Regions from separate parts of the Homo sapiens genome. Here region 2 is linked to region 1. The links come from fine-mapping of genetic effects on gene expression. A gene starts in region 1. The other region holds a variant in brackets. All regions are shown on one strand. Distances are between the middles of the regions. Region 1 holds the start of TMEM176A (transmembrane protein 176A). Region 2 overlaps LOC105375567 (a long non-coding RNA gene).

The links. PIP is the estimated chance that this variant, and not a neighbour inherited with it, causes the effect.
Region 2: its variant is the best candidate, but not a certain one, in a credible set for the expression of TMEM176A in blood mononuclear cells (TOPMed, PIP 0.80).

What each region holds. Positions count from the first base shown.
Region 1 is chr7:150,798,049-150,802,434 of GRCh38, reverse strand. TMEM176A (transmembrane protein 176A) reads right to left here and starts at 1,666. Exons shown (of 7, transcript NM_018487.3): 1 at 1,607-1,666; 2 at 711-899; 3 at 110-220. The coding sequence starts at 884. It overlaps TMEM176B (transmembrane protein 176B), which reads left to right and starts at 2,071. Exons shown (of 7, transcript NM_001101312.2): 1 at 2,071-2,137. RefSeq lists enhancers at 975-1,674, 1,675-2,374, 2,375-3,074.
Region 2 is chr7:150,819,084-150,823,469 of GRCh38, reverse strand. LOC105375567 (a long non-coding RNA gene) reads left to right here. Exons shown (of 5, transcript XR_928171.3): 5 at 1-4,386. Among named protein-coding and RNA genes, the nearest start is that of TMEM176A, 21 kb to the right of the region's middle. The variant A/G (reference allele first, on the strand shown) is at 1,702.

The sequences.
Region 1 (4,386 bases):
GATCTCTCCGACTGCCAGCATTCTGTGGCGCCATGTTGGAGGAAGGCAATCAGGAGAGCAATGCCCCACCCCTCTCACAGGCAGTCAAGCACTGTCCTGCTCTACTCACCACAGCCCCTGTCCAGATGGCAGCTCCCGAGGTGACGAGGAGGGTGTAGTCGCGGATGTAGAAAAATCCTCCTAGGACTGCACTCAAGATCCCCAGCACGATCTGCATCACCTGAAAGACAAAGGACCCAAGATCCCGGCTCCTAGGTGGACCTGCCACTGCAGGGATTAACCGCTAAAACCCCAAAAAGAGAGGGAGAGGTAGAGAGAGAGAGAAAGAAAGAAGAGAAGAGAAGAGAAGAGAAGAGAAAAGGAGAAGAAAGAGGAGGAGAAGGAGAAAGAAGAAGAGGCAGGAGGAGGAGAAAAGAGAAGGGAAAGGAAGGAGAGGAGAGCCGGCCCATCCTGAGTTTGGCCCAGAGGAAAGGATGGACTCAGGGCTCCACTGATTGGGACTCTGCATGGTCAGTGGCTCCTCCACACCCCTTCAGCCCAGAGCCTCCCCTCCCCAGGCTCTTACTGAGAAGGCCAGAGAATCACATCGCTAAGTAAGAAGACATAACTGGCTCGGTGTCCTGTTCAGAGGGAGGCTGGCAGAGAGTGCTGCTGCGGCTGGAGGTGGGGAGTTCCTCCCGCCGCCCGACGAGGCAGGCCGTCACACTCACCCACGAGGCCACCAGCAGCCGGCTGCTGCCCCTGGCCTGGGTGGCCCGGGGCCGCAGCGCAGAGCAGCAGGTGAGCAGGAGCTTGGCCAGGGCAGACTCCTGGTGGATGTGCACATCGATGTGGGTGTGCTGTGGGGCCTCCGGGGCCATCTCATCACTGTCGGCTGTTCCCATTGTCAGGGACACAGTCTATGAGGAAGGGAGCACCAGAGAGGAACGGCTGTCAGAAGATTTTCGCAGATTTCATTGGAGTTGGGGAGGTCAGGGGCCAGTGGTGGCTCAAAGTCACCCAATGAATGGCTGTCCTGGTCACAGGGCCGCACCCCTGGCCCCTCACGAGGGGAATGTGTGTAGCAGAGGGGGTGCTGACCATGCTGGAACTGCGGCGACTACAGAGCCTGCGGGAACCTCCCCTTTCGCCCAAGATCTGCTCTGTCCCCCTCATCCTCCTCCCAGGGCCCTGGCGTCTGGGTCAAGCAGCGCCCCACACCTCGACCCCTCACCCCCTCCTCCCGGGCTCTTCCTGCGGCCTCCCCTCCACAGTCCGCAGGCTCTGGGACAGGACCGAGTCCTTGGCTGCCTGTGGAGCTCCTGTGCCAGCAGCTGCGCCCCGGCTGCGCTCCGGATACCCCCATCCCCGCCACCGCCGACCTCCCGCTCCACCGACTGCTGCTCACGCCCGACGGGTTCACGCCGCCCCTGCCCCGTGAAGGACCGCGCTGCGGTGCGGAGGTAGGTCAAAAGCCGGGGCCGCACCTGGCTTCCTCTGCAGTCCCCTTCCTGGAGTGTCATCCCTGGGTGGGGGTCCCTCCTACGCTCCTCCAACTGTGCGGAGGCAGCTCGGGGTGCGTGCGGAAGGAGGCCCGGGGGCCGCCGGGAGTGGGGTGCCGCCTCACCTGCGCTCCTCGGGACCTGCGAGCGGGCGGCGGGAGGGCTGGGGCGCTGGCTGGAGAAGTGGGTTGAGAGTTGGAGGGGGAGGCGGGGAGGGGAGGCGGGGGTGGGGCTGAACTTCAGCCCCTCGGGTTCATGACAGGCTGCAGGGCCTGGGGTCCGTCTGGGGTTCTCCTGCTGCGCGAGGGTCACTGGGCTCTGGGGAGCTGGGAGGGTCCGCGGGCGGACGGCCCTGGGAAAGCCCGTGGGGTCGTTCTCGCCTCCAGCCCCGCCCGGCCAGGGCCGGCGTGCAAGTGTGCGCGAGTGGGAGCGCAGGGGGCGCGCGGGGGCTCGGTCTTCTCCCGCCCGGTCCGCTCCTCCGGGCGGAACCCCCTTTGCCGGGCCCCCGGGCCGCAGCTGGTTTCGGGAAACCGCGCAGCCTGGGCGGGGCCGCAGCCCCCACCCGTGCATCTGCCGTCTCCGCCCTCCCGTCGCTCCCCTGCTCGGGGTCAGCTAGTGTCCGCTCTGCTCGGCCGCGGGCTCCCGGAGGACTGCAGGTGAGGCAGGGCCTCCGCGGCCCGGGAGACCCTCTTGCCGCAGGACCCTCTGTCACGAGGAGTCCCCAGGGCCATGCCCCCACCCCGTCCTGTCCACAGGACGTCTTTCTTCCTCCAACCTGGTTTCCAGGAGGACTCACGTAGGAGGGAGGGACAGCTGGGTGCAGGTGTTTCTCCCCAGAAAAACGGCTGGAGAGCGGGAGGAGAGGCCTGGGGCTGGCGCGTCCCGTCCACCTTCTGCCGCCTGCACGCCTGGACCCTGGCTGGAGCCCTACGGTGGGGTGGCTCCTGGGACGGGGCCAGGGAGCGGCGGGGCTGCCGGACGCTTTCCCCAGCCCCGGGGCACGGGAAGAGCTGGACAGAGGAAAGTGTTCGGGGCAGCCGGGAAGAGCCCACCACCTACCAGGCGTCGGGCGGCCCGCAGGGGAATCTCCGTGGTGCCGGCCTGGTTCAGATCCGACTCTTCAGGCGGGGGCGAGGCAGATCTAGGGGTTGGCGTGGGGCGGGGGAAGCGGTGGTCCTGGGGGCCCGGAGGTAGCTGGAACCCGAGGTGCCCTCAGGGCGAGGCCTGGGCCGTCAAGGGAAGGTCTGGCTGGAATCTGGGGCTGGGCTGGAAGCAGTCTGAAGCTCCTTTGTACGTGTGCGGAATTGTCTAACTCCTGTCCTTTCTAACCCCAAGGAGGCCAGGTGGGTGAAAGAGTGAAACTGCTTTGAAAAGTAGGTAGAGTACGAATGGGAGGTGTTATTAGAATTGTTAATAATATTTGATTTAAACTGTGATACTTAGCCAGGATGTCCATTAGAATTGCCTATGCAGGATTTATTTTAGAGCCAGGCAAGCTGATTCTAAAGTGCATGTGAAGAAGTAGTCTAGCAAAAATGGCCATGACAATTCTGAAAGAAAAACCACACGAGGGGATCATGAAACAGCCCAATTAGCATTAAGCTCCATGTTAAAATTGTGGTAATGATGCCTAGCCCATGAGACATGCCAATGGGCAGAATATAAGGACTAGAATAGGCCTACATTCCTAGGGGAACTTCATTTCTGCTCAGGAGAGAATTTTAAATCACTGAGAAAAAGAGGATGTATTTTCCGCAAATGGAACGTATCTTTCAGAAGTTAAACATCTGAATGACAGCAACAGAACTTGGATCCGTGTCTCCCAACGGCGAAGGTTGGTCACCCAGCTCCCAAATTCCAGATGGTCGGCATTTAAAAGTGAAAACTGAAAGCATAAAGGCACTTAGAAGAAAATGTGGAAGATTATTTTATAATCTCGAAACGGGGAAGTCCTTTAAAAGTGTAAGAGCTAGACACCATAAATAGAATGAAATAGAACATGGATTGTATGAATATACAAGCAAGGTCAAAAAATAAACTTCAAATTGTAAAGAAACATTTGAAACTCATATCACAAACGGTAATTTTGTGAATAGATAAAGAACTTCCATAGAAAAAAGCAAAACAAAACAAAACGAAACAAGGACATAGGATGTGAACGGAGAGCTCACAAAAGAAGAAATAAAAATGGCCCTGAACATATGAAAAGACAACCAACCTCACTCATAATAAGAGAACTATGGGCCAGGCGTGGTGGCTCACACCTGTAATTGCAGCACTTTGGGAGGCTGAGGTGGGAGGATTGCTTGAGTCCAGGAGTTTGAGACCACCCTGGGCAACAAAGCAACACCCCATCTCTCTCTCTAAAAAAAGAGAACTGGCCGGGCGCGGTGGCTCACGCCTGTAATCTCAGCACTTTGGGAGGCCGAGGCGGGCGGATCATGAGGTCAGGAGATCGAGACCATCCTGGCTAACACGGTGAAACCCCGTCTCTACTAAAAATACAAAAAATTAGCTGGGCTTGATGGCGGGCGCCTGTAGTTACTCGGGAGGCTGAGGCAGGAGAATGGCGTGAACCCGGGAGGTGGAGCTGGCAGTGAGCCGAGATCGCGCCACCCTAGCCTGGGCGACAGAGCGAGACTCCATCTCAAAAAATGAATAAATAAATAAATACATAATAAAAAAATGAAATAAAAGAAAACCATGGATTAAAAATATATGGAAATCATTACAGAAAGCAGGTCAGTGGTTGCTCATGGCCAGTGGTTGGGGGTATTTTCTGGGGAGGGGCTTTAGGGAATGTATTGCTGTGTAGGAATGTCCTTTATCTTGATTGTAGCTGTAATTGCACAAATGTGTAAATTTGTCAAAACTCGTTGAGATATACATTTAAAATGGGACATTT
Region 2 (4,386 bases), 21 kb before region 1:
GATGGACAGGTGGGCTGCTTAGTTATTTAATACTATGGCCCGTGTGCGCTTGTGACTTCTTGCGAGTCACCTCCATCCCATAATTTTAAGTACGTGCATAATATGCAGTCCATATGCATGAACCTTAAGTAGCTAATTACCATACGGGAACATTTTAAGGATATGTTTTCTGTCTAACGTGCATGCTCATCTCTGAGGAGCTGCCCCTGACAGGTTTGGTCCAGATCTAGGCGGCCATGTGGGCTCCTTACTCACTTTTTTAAAATCTCACTTTTGTTTTGGCTGCTCAGCCTCTGCTTCATATCTCACTTCTTGCTCACTCGCCCCTTCACCTTGCTTCTGCTCTCATGCTCTCACTCATTCTTCCTGTATCCAGTCTCTGGTTCCCTCTCTACCATCTCCTGCCTCAAAAGTGCTGCTCAGCATATAATTTCTCTTTGTAAGTTGTGGTTCTTGATTTTGGGAAATGAGTTTCCATCTTGCTGAACTTCTTAACTAGAGAATACTGTTGGGATGTGTCTACATCTATGTGACACTACTGGGATCCCTTGAATCCTATTTAGAGTCTAAAAGAGGGACATTGTTACTTAAAGGCGGTGGCCATTTAGCTGTCCCTCTTAGATTTGGTTCATATAATTTCTGATTTTCATGTCAGATTATAATCTGTAAACTCCTACTCAGGTCACTGCACCACTTTGATGGAATTTCCATTCCCTTTGTCCTCAAGATTTGTCTAAAGATATTTGGCTTTGACAGAATTTTGGGTTCTTCAGTTTTCTTTTTAATTATAAAATATACATACAAATGAACATTAAGCATATGTAGTTGTGTGAGTAATTATAAAACAAACTTAATGTATCACCAAATCAAAGAATAGCTCATTGCCCCAGAAGCAACCCCAGTCCCCTAATAACAACCCCTCCCTTTCTCCCTCTCTCCAGAAATGAGCCATATAATACCTCTTGTGCAAATTACTTTTTTGCTTTTCTCTAGATTTTTTTCCTTTTTTGTAGGCATTCCTGAAGGATATAAGTTGGTTTCGTCTGTTTTGAACTTTCTATAAACAGGGTCTTACCAAAGATAATTTTTTTGTCTTATTTATTTTTCTTAATTTTATGTAGTTGTAGGTTGTTCATTAGTGTGTAATTTTCTACTCTAGGAATTTGCAACAATGGGTGTATTCATTCTAATGATGATGGATATTAGTCTTGTTTCTAGTTTGGGGATATTATGAACAATGTATTTATAATCCTTTCTGCACACATGACCTTGGTAATTCGTGTATCTGGGTGTATACCTTGAAATGCAATGGTGGAGTCATAAGTCATATATTTCAACTTTGCTAGTTCATGCCTGTTTTTCAAAGTGGTTGTACCAGTTTACATTTCTGCCAGCAGTGTACAAGAGTTCCCATTGCTCCACATCCTAACCAACACTTGGTATTGCCAGACTTTAATTTTTGTGGAATATTGTGGATTTAGTTCATGTTATCTTATTGAGGTTTTAATTTGACTACCTGGTTTATTGATGAGGTTGAACACATTTCCACTATTTATTGGCCATTTGGGCTTCCTCTTATGTACAGTGTCAGATCTTTGGCAATTTTTTCTGTTGGGTTGTCCGCCTTAATGATTTTTAAGAATTCTTCATGTGAAATTGCTGACACTTGACCATTTTTGACTTACAAAAAATGGCAGTTTC[A/G]TATGATTCAATTTAACACCTTCTGGAATTGGTCCTTTGTTATTTATGTGTTGACTAATATTTTATCAGATTATGTGGCTTATCTTTTCATTTCCTTCCTTCGTTTTTTGAGAATCAGAAAGTTTTAACATTAGTGGATTTGGACTTATCAGTCCTTTTCTTTATGGCTGGTGCTTTTTATGTCTTGTTTGAGAAATCCTTGTCTTTGAGGCTAAAGGTGACCAGATTGTGCTGGGGGACTGGGGCTGCATTCTCAGGGCATTCTACTTTGGGCCCTGGGTCACATTGCCTCTGCTGGGGAGGAGGCAGGTTTCTCTGTGCCCCTAGCCTTGACTGGGTGGGGGAGGGAGGAGAGGCCACTCCTGGGCTCTTTGTAGGGTAGCACTCATGTTTTCAAGAAGATCCTTTCCTGTAGATTGTTTCCACACTGTTCTTTCAAGTGCAGAGGGTCTTCCTAATGAATCGGCAGCCCTGCATCTCACTGGGCCAGGGTTGGGGCAGGAGTAGGCCAGCATCACGGTGGATGTTCAGCTAGGGTGGGCTGTGACGGGGGTTGGCTCCAGCTCAGAACTGGAAATCCTGTTTGCTGAATTGTGTGTCCTAGCCGATGAGGTGGGACAAGGAGAAACTGGCTGAAGACAGTGAAACAGTAGGAAAAACCCTGCCTGCCCTGTAACTCTGGGGCCTGGGGGATGTAATGGTGTGATTCTGACTAGTTGGCTGGAGCAGAGCAGGTAGCCTGGGGCGCGCCAGACGAAGACTGGAAAATGTCATGGCTTTTTGGCCCTCACTCCTCAACGTCACTGTGGGTTGGGGGAGGCAGGGGACTGTCCAACCTGTTCACAGTTCCCTTTCCAGTGCTGACAGTGCCTGCCACATGAGAGATATTAATACACATTTGTTCAATTAATGAATTAATATTTTTCACATAATTTCATGAAAGAGTTAATGTTTTCTTTTCTATTTCTTTCCCTGGGGAAAACTTTTTGTAGCCCCTAGGCGGCAGAATTAATCACATCTAGCTGGCTTGTGATACGGAACCAGGCTTTTGAATTTAAAATTAATCTTGTTCTAATTCTGTTTTTGAACTTGTTAATCATTAAGGTCCTAAGAAACATTGGCAGAGTAAAACTGAAATAAAGACCTGGTAAATTACTTTCTCAGGCTAAAGAAGGTATGAATTTTTCTTCTAAGTGCTTCTAAATCAGTCCTTTAATGGTTAGGTTGGATGTAAATTCTTACCATTCTTCAGTCAGATAAATGAATGTCAACCCAGTTTTTCCTTCTGCTGGAAAATGGTCTTTTACTCTCAGAATCTGGCAACCTCCTTTGTGTCTCGTGTCTGGAGGGTCAGAGTCTGGGAAAGCAGCTCCCCTCCACCCCACTTCTCAGGCCTTCTCCCAGCTTCCCAGCTTCTCTCCCTGCAGCCACCCTGCCCCCTCCCAAACTGCCTCGGAAAGTCCCATGTCTCGGGTTTTCTCTTCTGTAGGAAATCAGATGTCGTGCCACCGCAACCTTTCATTCAAAATAAAAATTCAAAAGCAATTTGTGTATTTGAAAACACATCTAAACCACAGGCTTGAAGTTCCTGTTTTGATGGGGAAAATGAATATTCCCATCTGGAGATAACTTTGGGACGTTGAGATAGAGACAGGCAAATTCATCTCAAACTCATTATTATTTTAGATTCTTATCATTATCAATTATTATTATAGCAAAACTCATCATTTTTTCTGTGTACAATTTGTGAATTTTAACATATGTACAGATTCATGTAACCAACACCATGATCAGGATAAAGAACAGTATTGTCACCCCACAAATCTTCCTTGGGGGGTCCCTTTTTCAGTCACATGCTCTTCCCAGCCCTAACCACAGGGAACCATTGAGTTGTTTTCCATCACTATAATTTTTCCATTTTGAGAGTATCATATCAGTGGAATCATGCAGTACGTAACCTTTGGGGACTGGCCTCTTTACCTCAGCATAATGATGTTAAGATTATAATCTGTAAACTCCTACTCAGGTCATTGCACCACTTTGATGGAATTTCCATTCCCTTTGTCCTCAAGATTTGTCTAAAGATATTTGACTTTGACAGAATTTTGGGTTCTTCAGTTTTCTTTTTAATTATAAAATATACATACAAATGAACATTAAGCATATATAGTTGTGTGAATAATTATAAAACAAACTTAATGTATCACCAAATCAAGGAATAGCTCATTGCCCCAGAAACACCCCCAACCCCCACATCATTCATGTGATTGTGTGTATCAATAGTTTATTCCTTTTATTGCTAGTAGTATTCCAGTGTATGGATGTTCCTACAGTTTATCCATTCACCCATGCAAGGACATTTGTGTTGCTTCCAGTTTTTTGGTAATTATAAATGGAGCTGCTATAAACATTCACATACAGATTTTTGTGTAAACATGAGCTTTAATTTTTTAGGGTAAATATCATGGAGTGTGATCACTGAGTCATAAGATGTAGGGTTAAATTTGGAAGAAGCTGCCAAAGCATTTTCTAGAGTGACTGTACCATTTTGCATTCTGGCCAACATCTGGTATTGTCTGTGTTTTCTATTTGACCTGCTCTAATTTGTGTGTAGTGGCATCTGATCATGGTTTTAATTTGTATTTACTTAATGCCTAGTGGTGTTGATCATTTTTTCATGTAGTT